Homo sapiens: one gene and its partners. The protein of the gene in region 2 interacts with the protein of the main gene of each other region in a biochemical or structural test. Each region holds a gene or a part of one and is shown on either strand. Other genes may lie near its edges. The genes, in order: TRIP12, NMI and STAT5A.

Region 1 (3,655 bases), about 79 Mb from region 2:
AGATTCAGTATGCTGAAGTGCTTTTGGTTTTTTTGCAGAGCTAGGAGAATTGGTCCTGTTGTAGTCTGGACTAGCACTGCGCTTCACTCCTCGAGAATTGTCTTTCTTAGGCACCTGCCCCGTTTTTTGTCTTTCTGAAGTATTGGCTCTGTCTGGATCCTCTGGTTGTGGAACTATCACAGCAGATGATGAACTGCAGCTTCTAAGAGGTTAGATAAGAAAACAGTTAATATCAGCCTGTCATAATTACAACTGTCATATATAATGCTTTCAAAAAATAAAGTATGAATATGTTCCTACTAAGTCCAGTATTAAACATAGGTTTTCAGAAGGTTCAAATCTGTAAAACGAAATAAAAGAACAAAACAAAAGCAGATGTGACTTTGGATACTAAAATATCTGATTAAAAGATAAGGGTGTTCTTTAGCCCAAAGATTACTGACACTAACACTCGTAATCACAAAACAAGAATTAAGATTACAAGAAAAACAACACTTAATTGTTCGGAACCAGAGGAAGCCAGAATATTGATGCCCTATTCACAAGCACAACTGCTTTGTCAAAGCTTAGAAGAAATAAGCATTAACATACGCACTTTCAAAATGAAGGTTAGAGATTTTTATATTGTAGTACTATCAAATCTTCAAAGTTAACATTGCTTTCCAAAGTCTCTTAACAATTAAATCTTAAGAATCACTGACTTAAACCTAAACTATGGCTCTGACAATAAAAACTAAAAAAAAGATTAAAAAATAAAAAGAAATAAAAAATGGCCATAATGGTTTGTTAAGCAAAGGGGGAATCTTACGGCTCTCCAAACAAAAATATCATTTTATCATTGACAAACTCACTGTCTAGGGTATACTGCACTAATCACTGCAAAGGTGATAAACTGTCAATCCTAAAAGTTACTTAGAGAATAATGAAAATATGTATCAAAACGTTTTGGAATAACCTCAAGTTTTAACATTATGCAATGATTTGAATGCAAATAATTCTGCCTTGAAAATGTATAAGCAACATGAAGATTTACCTTTTAGAAAGGTGTCCCCTTGACAGTTCAGAAGTAGTATTAGACTGCACTTTGGGTGCCTTAGAATTAGATTTTCTACTCTCAGGAGGGCTATATCCCTTATGTTTTGCCTGCCCTAAATGTGACCTGTCAGCAGAAAATCAAAACAGAAATCTATCAGGAAACTGAGATGCAAATACAATACTGAAAATGAAATATTTTTATATATTTCTTAAAGCTTCCCACAATTCATTGTTGACCCTACCCTTTTTCCAAATATTTATAAATTTTAATTATTATTCTACTAAATAATCTGGCAAAAAGAAATTGCCTCTCAGAACCACCCCCGCCCCGCAATACCGAAGAGTTTATTATCACCAGTAGTCATAATTGCACAGCGTTGTTAAGGTTGCTTAAGCAGTAACACATTTTTCAGCAATTTTAGTGCAGATATTCAAATATGCTACATTTTAACAAAAAGCAAATTTAGACTTTAGATCTAAACACACTTTTAATACATAATGTGACTGTAATGGCTTTAAAAGTTTACGGAAAAGACAATTGATGATTCCCACACTGATACCGATTTCCAATTTGTACTTAAAATTCAGGTAAACACAGCAAATGCAGAGACAGACGAACCAATTCTCAAACTGATTTTACACAGAAAATCATTTCAAGCACTAAACAATAAATAAACCTACATGAAATCAACATAGTGATACTTGCTAAAACTTTAAAGTACTTGTCAACAGAAAGAACACAAAAAAGTCCTGGAGAAATATGGAATTTACCACAAAAGTTCCAAAAAACATTCAAATAATTCCATGATTGATATGGTGCATCATATTTACAATAAATCAAATCCTTATGCCAGCACTATTCTAAAAGCAAGTTTGAGGAACATGAAAAAACTGTTTTCAGTTAGATTATTTTTTAGACCTTGGGGAATGGTTACATGAGATTTACATAAGCAATAAAAAACAAACACATGTTGATATCCAGAAAACTGCTGCCATTCGGGTGAGATATTAATGTAACAAATGCAATTTATGTAATTCATAGCTGATATCCACTTTCCACATAAGAGCATATACCAATGAAAATCTAGAAAAAAGTTTCATTAATACCAAATTTACTTGTTAAAAAAAAGTTTAAGGCTTTTATTCCAAACACCATCTCAAAAGAACTTAGAAATGAGTCACTGAAAATCTCACAAAATAATTCTAACTCAATCTGTAAGGATGCCATAAATTTCTTAAGATATCATACAAGTACAACCATCTGTTCCAAAAGAGGACCTAAGGTTTCTCTTTTCTGTATCACTTCTTCTTCCATCTTTCCAGAATTCATGAAAAGAGTCTTAAAAGAAGGTAAGAAATTAGCTTCTTAAGAAAGGAAATAGTTCCTGGATCCCTCATATCATTTTTGTTTTTAAGGTTCTAATCTGAAAGTAATAATATGTTCTAAAGACTTATTAGAATAGATGAATTTCTTAAAAAAAAATAACAAAAAAACAAAACTCTAGGTGAGCCTTTCAAGTGTTATTAGTCTTCACTTTTAGTAATGAAAGGACACATATACTTCAAGAAGCATATTTTCTAAAGTTGTAGCTAAGCTGAACTTTGTAAGATTTTTTATACATTGTGTTTTTGTTGTTGTTGTTGTTATTTTTTATTTTTTGGTGTTTCAGACAGGGTTTTGCTCTATCGCCCAGGCTGGAGTGCAGCGACACTATCTCGGCTCACTGCAACCTCCGCCTCCCAGGATCATGTGATTTTCCTGCCTTGTATATATTGTGATTTAATTTTAATTTTTCCTAGATATTCTCCCATTGCAGACTAAAATTTTGCTTTAACCAATGAGTTTATTAGAGATTTAATTTCTAAGAGTTGCTTTTGTTTTTGTTATATTTCTACTAACAGATCTCAGAGTTCAACTCTTTTTTCTTCAGAAATGAGACTATTTTTCAAATCATTCCATAGTTATTCTAAAAAAGAGGTGTAACGTTCTGTTTTTGGGGTGTGGAATTTAACAGCTACAGGAAATATAAATTATGTCATTCAGGTCCTCTACATTCTTATTTTCTTAAAGATCGTTGCAGACTGATGTTTTAATTAAATCACGTTTTCTACTTTATTTCATTTTAAAATTTAAAATATAGCTTGTTGCATTCCTTGATAATTAAACAACTCATTCTGAAAGAAAACTACATACATTCAAAGCTAGACAACTTTGTGAAAAATAAATGCCCAAAACAATTAAAAATTATGATTCATTCCATTTGTCATCAGAAACCGGCCCATATGAAACTAAAGGTGAGGTCTGGGGCAGCAGCCCTCCTCTTTTTAACTCAAATAAATTGTTCTGTTGACTTTTATATAGCTTATGTTAGATCCACCTAATTCTACTCCTGTGTTATTTCTCATGCCCTTACTAATACCTTCAATGAACTTAAGAACTTAGCATGTAAACTCTCTATATTATACCACAAAAAGTAAACAGTATTCAAATCATTTAGAAAACCAAGGCTCACAAAACTGGCTTAAATTCAGCAATGCCCAGCAGGGCACGGTGGCTCATGCCTGTAATCCCAGCACTTTGGGAGACAGAGGCGGATGTGTCATGAGGTCAGGAGTTCAA
Region 2 (3,655 bases):
TGTGGAAGTGTGGATGATTATAGGGGGTTAGTAAATGATTTTTAAAGGAATTCAAGGGACTCGAAGAACATACAATGGCCTTGGACAAAGCCTGTTGGGCTTGCAGAACAGACAGTGGTTGTAACCCAGGTTTGTTGACAGACTTCAGTCTTCTTTCTGTGATATGAATTCAGAATTAAAAACTCAGGGAAGGGACTAGAGGTAATTGTTCTGTTTTCTGGCAGGTCCCACATTTAGGCAGATAGGAGAACATCAGTGCACCTTCATCCTGTGCTTTGGGAGAGACAGAGGAGGAGGAGGGGGAGGTCAGAGAGACCTTGAGCCATCTTCAGTTCACCATGTCAAAATGCCATACTTCCGGGTATCAGTTTCTGAGCCCCAGTGATAGCAAAAGGATCCAGTTGAGGATCATGCTTTCTACTTAGTTGTGAGGTCTCTTTAGTCTCCTTCAGTATGGACATTTCTTAGTCTTTCCTTGGCCTTCTGAACTTGAAACTTTTGAAGAGAACAGGGCAGTTGTATTGTAGAACCCCTCAATTTGAGTTTGTCTGATGTTTCCTCATGCTTAGATTCAGATTATGCATCTTTGGCAGGACTGTCGTCGAAGTTACATTGTGTTCTCAGTGCACCTTGTAATATGTTACATTATTTTGATTTATTCCATTATTTACTTTGATTATCTCATTATGTTGATGTCTGCCAGACTTCTCCAGTATAAAGTTACTCTTTTCTTCTTTGAAATTAATAAACATTTTGTGGGGAACTATTTTGAAGCTAACTAAAAATTCCTTTCTTCATCAAAATTTCTAATTTATCTGGACTCAGTTTTTTACTTTAATCAACAGATTTAATCATTACTACCATTATGTATTTTAATCTTTAATTTATCCCCAGATTTGGCCACCGAAAACCATCTCAAGGTGGATTCTGTGTCGTTTCAACATGTCATCATCATTCTTTAAGCATTTCCTTGCTTTTTGGCATCATAAGATGTCCCAGGCTCATCTTGCAGTTTTTCTATCCTGGTTTTGGGATCAACCATTTCTCTAAAGAGTCCTGGTTCCTTTTGGTGGAGAATAGTATTAGAAACCAAAGTCTGGGTGCTGAGTGTGCTCATTGCTCATTGTGGTTGTATCTGCTCTCCCAGGCCTTCTCAGCAGACAGAGCTAGGGTATATATGTATTTGTATATACACAAGATACACACATAGGCATTGCTTTTTTTTTTTTTTTTTCTGAGATGGAGTCTCACTCTGTCGCTCAGGCTGGAGTGCTGTGACGCAGTCTTGACTCACTGCAACCTCTGCCTCCCGGCTTCAAGCGATTCTCCTGCCTCAGCCTCCCGAGTAGCTAGGATTACAGGTGCATGCCACCATGCCTGGGTAATCACACATAGGTATTTCTATCTGTCTGTCTATTTATCTATCTATCTATCTATCTATCTATCTATCTATCTATCTATCTATCTCAATCATCAATCAGAAACCACAGCTGCAGGATTACATTGAAATCTAGTTCCAATCAACAGTATTTATTCTTGTTTTCTCCATTTCCATATTTATAATTATCTTCTCTGACGGTGAAAAACTTGGCTCCTATTATCCTCCATATATTTACTTACTTGATCAATTCTGTGTATGTACTTTTGGCCACTGGAGCCCTTTCAGTTGGGTCCCCATGTCCCTTTCACATACTCCCATCATATTGTATGTGTTTGTGCATGTGTTTTAGTGCTTTTTACTTTTCTGGCACTACAAGATATTCCAGGCTTATTTTGTATATTTTATACCCCAGACCTAGAATCAGCCATTGCTCCAATGAGCCCTGGTTTCTTTTATTGAAGAATATTATTAGAAACCAAGATCTGGGTGTTATGCGACTCTCCTCTTTTTTTGACACTCCTGTGTTCATTAAACTAAGACATAGCTAAGTTTTTGCTAGTCTTCTATTTTATTTTTAAGGAGGAATAGATGTCTTTTATTTCTTTTTCAAGAATATTGAGAATTTAGCCACTTGAAATCTTGGAAAATTATATGGCAGACTGTTTATTAATGTGTATCTAAAAACATAGAATCATGATATCCTTTGTCCCATTTTTGATCTGAGAGTTTTTCATCTCAGTAAATTCATATGTAGGCAAGAGTTCTTAAATTTTGTGTACCATGGATTCCTTTGCCAGCTTGGCAAATCCTATGGGCCTTTCTCCAAAAAAAAAACATTTAGTCAATGCCTGTGGGGACAGGCATGGTGGCTTATCCCAGCACTTTGGGAGTCCAAGGGGGGCGGATTGTTTGAGCCCAGGAGTTCGAGACAGTCTAGGCAACTTGGCGAAAACACATCTCTACAAAAAATACAAAAATTAGCTGGGCATGGTGGCACATACCTGTAGTCCCAACTACTTGGGGGGCTGAGGTGGGAGGATCACTTGAGTCAGGGATGTTGAGGCTGCAGTGAGCCGTGTTCATGCCCCACTGCACTCCAGCCTGGGCAACAAAGTGAGACCCTATCTAAAAAAAAAATTAAATGCATAAAATAAAATACATAGAATTACAAAGTAAATCAATTGTATTGAAATATGACTGGGATTATAGGCACCTGGCACCACGCCCAGCTAATTTTTTTTGTATTTTTAGTAGAGACGGGGTTTCACCATGTTGGCCAGGCTGGTCTCAAACTCTTAACCTTGTGATCCACCCGCCTTGGCCTCCCAAAGTGCTGGGATTACAGACATGAGCCACCGCGCCCGGCCAGAAATCAATTGTATTGAAATATGGTTATCAGAATATTTAAAAAGCAAATGTTTGATATAGTGATATATATCAATGTATTACAATATATTACAAGACCTAGTGGTGAGGTTAGTAACTAATGTAGAAGCAATGTTAAACACAAACTATTTTAGCATATCTGCAACAATATTCTATGAAACTATCTGTGCTTTCTATTGGTGACTATCACAGGTGCTGTGAATACTACTGTAGTTTGTTACCATATTCATAATTGAAGAGAATGCTAAGCTTCAATTAGAGGTTATTAGAAATAAACATATAATTTCTTCCCAATCCATGTTTATGGACCCAGCAGGAGAGTTAGTGAAAGCTTCAGGTAAGAACACCTGCGTAGAGAAAGCATATGTTGGAGGCCTCTTGACTTTGTTTACATTTGGGGAGAACAATAGGGAGAATTAAATATTTTAATCAAAAACTTTGAAAAACGTTGGAAAACCAAAATAGTATTCATTTAAAATGGAGCATGATATTATGGTTGGAATGTGAACTACAAAGGAACATTAATGTTCATTACTTTCTATATATTATTTTGTTGAAAAGCAAAGGATTTTTAGAATCTTTTTATATATTATAGGTGTGAAAGTTATTTGAAATATTGGCCAGGTGCTGTGGCTCACGCCTGTAATCCCAGCACTTTGGGAGGCCGAGGGGGGTGCATCACTTGACAAGAGTTCAAGACCAGCCTGACCGACATGGTGAAACCCCATCTCTACTAAAAATACAAAAATTAGCCGGGCATGGTGGCAGGTACCTGTAATCCCAACTACTTGGGAGGCTTGAGACAGGGGAATCACTTGAACCTGGGAGGCAGAGGTTGCAGTGAGCCAAGATCGCACCATTGCCCTCCAGCCTGGGCGACAGAGAGAG
Region 3 (3,655 bases), on a different chromosome or scaffold from region 2:
CTCCCTTTGTGACCTGGTTTCTACCCCTCTCTCTCTATTTTTTTTTTTTTTGAAACGGAGTCTCGCTGTGTTGCCAAGGCTAGAGTGCAGTGGCGCAATCTCGGCTCACTGCAACATCCCCCTCCTGGGTTCAAGCGATTCTCCTGAATGTGCTGAAGGAATGGCTGGATCCAAGGGGAGCTTGTTGATGCCTCCCCTCTAACTTCATTTCGGGGTCTCCAGGATGCCTGTGAGAGTTTCGGCCTCTTCCCTCTTCCTTCAGTCACAAGGGGGTCTTAAGTGAGATGGTGTGTGTTCACACAGCCCTGTTCCTCCCTATGTCCCTAGGATCTACTGCAGTCCATGGTATTGAGTCAGCAAATAAATGTAGAGCGAGGGGTCATCATCATTAGTGGGAAAACCCAGGTGACACCTGGGACGTGTTGAGTTCTAGTCCCTGGGAGGAAATTAGATGGACCCTGTTTGGAATACTCTAGTGGAGGGCAGCTCTGACATAGATATTTGGACTTTGAAGGTGTTACTATCTGCCGTTATCTGCCAGGTCACCTGTTTCTCCTTTCTCTTTCCCTTTTCTATCCCAATTCTGGCAAATGACTCCTTCTGATGCAAATGATCCTTCCTTCTTGCCCTAGTTTCCCTTCTTACCCTAGTTTGGGGTTTGGGGTTTGGGGTCTGTAGTATTGGTGTTTCCTAATGCCTGTGGTCTTCTCCCATCCTCTCTTCCCCGAGTTATTTCCATTCCATCTGTCTCCAGTGCAGCTCTCCGGCTGGGATCCTGGTTGACGCCATGTCCCAGAAGCACCTTCAGATCAACCAGACATTTGAGGAGCTGCGACTGGTCACGCAGGACACAGAGAATGAGCTGAAGAAACTGCAGCAGACTCAGGAGTACTTCATCATCCAGTACCAGGAGAGCCTGAGGATCCAAGGTGAGGCGCGGTGGAGGCAGTGTGCATCCGGAGGGTGGGAGTGAGGAACATTCTATGGACTCCTAGAGGGTAGAGCTGGGTCAGTGTCCATCTCCTCAGCACTTTGCCCAAAGCCTGGTAGAAGCAATGGCTCCCGGTGATTGAGCCCCTGCCGTGGGTCACACTTGGCACACATTATTTAATTCAACCCTCTCAACAAGCCTATGAAGTGAACAGTTGTGTTATCCCCCCTTTTGCAGATGGTAAAAGTGAGGTTCAAAGAGAACAAGTAACTTGGCCTAGGTTGCCTGTAAATTACAGAACTGGATCTCAACTAGAGATATATCATAAAACTCCTGTACTTTATTAACCAGTATTCTCTCCTTAATGGTATGTATTCTGTAAATATCGACACAAATAGGTAAATATGAACAGTGCTCCCTAACCAGAGGGAGGACTTGGATTGGAAGTCTTCTGGTTGAACCAGGCTGGGAGAGGTGGAACTTCCAAAGTGGGCCTTCTTGAGCCTCACGGATAGGATGTGGGCCTGGGGGAAGGGGTGACAGTAGAAAATTCTCCTGTATCCTAGGTCTGTAGTTCGCCAATGGCTCCCATGATAAAGATGTGGGGAAATTAAAAAATCAAATTAGCTTGAAAGGAACTATCCCCAGGTACAATTTGAGGAGTCATGGGACATGGCCCATCTATTAATATGTCCCATTCCAGACTGACCCCAGAAATGTAACACCTCATCTTAGTGAGAACAAGGGGTGTCAAACTGCTTTTTCCTTTACTCTTTTTAATCTGATTTCTTAAGGTAGACCTTAGGTCATTGATTTTAGACCTTTCTTCTTTTCTTTTCTTTCTTTTTCTTTTCTTTTTTTTGAGACAATCTTGCTCTGTCGCCCAGGCTGGAGCACAGTGGCATGATTTCGGCTCACTGCAGCCTCTGCTTCCCAGCTTCAAGAAATTCTTGTGCCTCAGTCTCCCGCATAGCTGGGACTACAGGTGCAGGCCACCACGCCCAGCTGATTTTTTTAGAATTCTATTGTAGCTATTTAAGCTCTCTTCCTAACCCTGCACTGTCAGTGCTTTGTGTACACTGAGACCAGCACAATGCCTGAATATTGCAGCTATTATGTAAATACTTGCAGGATAATTCTAAATGTTTGTTTGTTTGTTTGTTTATTTATTATTGCCCAGGCTGGAGTGCAGTGGCACGATCTCATCTCACTGCGACCTCTGCCTCTCAGGTTCAAACTATTCTCATGCCTCAGCCTCCTCAGTAGCTGGGACTACAGACATGCACCACCATGCCTGGCTAATTTTTTTTTTTTGTAGTTTTAGTAGATACAGGGTTGTGCCGTGTTGTCCAGGCTGGTTGCAACCTCTAGCCTCGAGTGATCTGCCTGCCTCGGCCTCCCAAAGTGCTAGGATTATAGGCGTGAGCCACGGTGCCCAGCCAATACTGACAGGATAATTCTAAGAGAATTTCCCCTCATCTGAATCTATCCCAGACTGGCCCTAGAAGAAGGGCAGCTCCTTCTGAGAATGGAAACGGAAGATTTTGGGCGGTTATTCCTACCCAAGTCCTTAGACTGTCGACAGTATTTCTGATCCCGTGCCTGGCTTTTCTGTTTCCTGTGCATGGTGGCGGATTAGGTTTGGATTCAGGTTGGGTTTGGATCTATCATGCAGTGTCTTCTCAGTCCCATTTGTCAAGTTCACTCAGCAGAAACACAGACTATTGATCTGCTTTTGCCAGGGAAGGCTCAGCTGCCTCCAGTGGAGTAGGGAAATTGCTTCCCGTCTCCCTGGCCTCCTTCCTAAAAGCTTCTGCAAATTTCCAGGAGAGCCCTAAGTGGGTCCCTTGCATAGGAAGGCTGGGCCCAGGTGTTGGGATCACCACCACCCTCCCTGTGGCTGGGCAGGATACCCGAGGTAGCCGTGCAGACACCTCGGATCTGTCCGTGCCTGGATGATCCTCTTCCTGCTCGATACCTGCAGTGAGATTGGAGCCATATTTCTGAGTTCTAGCTCTGGGCTGTTCCTGGCTACATAGAGTTGCTTTTGTCTGTCCCAGCTTGTGCATCCCATGGGTCAGGGCTGGGGTCAGAGTGACGTGGCCCTCAGGGGCCAGCCAGGAGCTCGACCAAGACATGCTGGTGCGCGCATCTTCTGACTCAGCTCAAGCAAGGACGCTGGGCTGTTGAGAAGGTGATGGGAAGGGATTAATAGTCCCAGTGTGGTGGAGACGGGCTGTCGCTGGGAGGGTGGGGTGGGCCTGCGGTGGTGGTTGTAACTGTGGACATGTTTACTTTCTTAGCCTGGGTTATTGATACACAGGCGCCCTTGTGTTCCACATCCCCTGTGTCTTACGTATTTCATAATGGATACTTTTTTTTTTTTGAGATGGAGTCTTGCTCTGTTGCCTTGGCTGGAGTGCAGTGGTGCTCTCGGCTCACTGCAACCTTTAACCCCGGGTTCAAGCAATTCTCCTGCCTCAGCCTCCTAAGTAGCTGGGATTACAGGCATGCGCCACCATGCCCAGCTAATTTTTGTATTTTTAGTAGAGACAGGGTCTTGCCATGTTGGCCAGGCTGGTCTCGAACTCTTGACCTCAAGTGATCTGCCTGTCTCAGCCTCCCAAAGTGCTGGGATTACAGGCGTAAGCCACCGAGCCTGGCACATGATGGATACTTTTTTTTTTTTTTTTTTAGACAGAGTCTAGCTCTGTCGCCCAGGCT

Evidence for each region.
Region 1: the proteins of NMI (region 2) and TRIP12 form a complex in vitro, tested with the Homo sapiens proteins (one study listed by BioGRID).
Region 3: the proteins of NMI (region 2) and STAT5A form a complex in vitro, tested with the Homo sapiens proteins (one study listed by BioGRID).

What each region holds. Positions count from the first base shown.
Region 1 is NC_000002.12:229,859,373-229,863,027, forward strand, and holds part of TRIP12 (E3 ubiquitin-protein ligase TRIP12), read right to left. Parts: intron 1,160-3,655; coding exon 1,034-1,159; intron 203-1,033; coding exon 1-202. UniProt on the Homo sapiens protein: E3 ubiquitin-protein ligase involved in ubiquitin fusion degradation (UFD) pathway and regulation of DNA repair.
Region 2 is NC_000002.12:151,283,169-151,286,823, reverse strand, and holds part of NMI (N-myc-interactor), read left to right. Parts: intron 1-2,533; exon of another isoform or gene 2,534-3,525; coding exon of another isoform or gene 3,526-3,655. UniProt on the Homo sapiens protein: Acts as a signaling pathway regulator involved in innate immune system response.
Region 3 is NC_000017.11:42,294,865-42,298,519, forward strand, and holds part of STAT5A (signal transducer and activator of transcription 5A), read left to right. Parts: intron 1-754; coding exon 755-929; intron 930-3,655. UniProt on the Homo sapiens protein: Carries out a dual function: signal transduction and activation of transcription. Mediates cellular responses to the cytokine KITLG/SCF and other growth factors. Mediates cellular responses to ERBB4.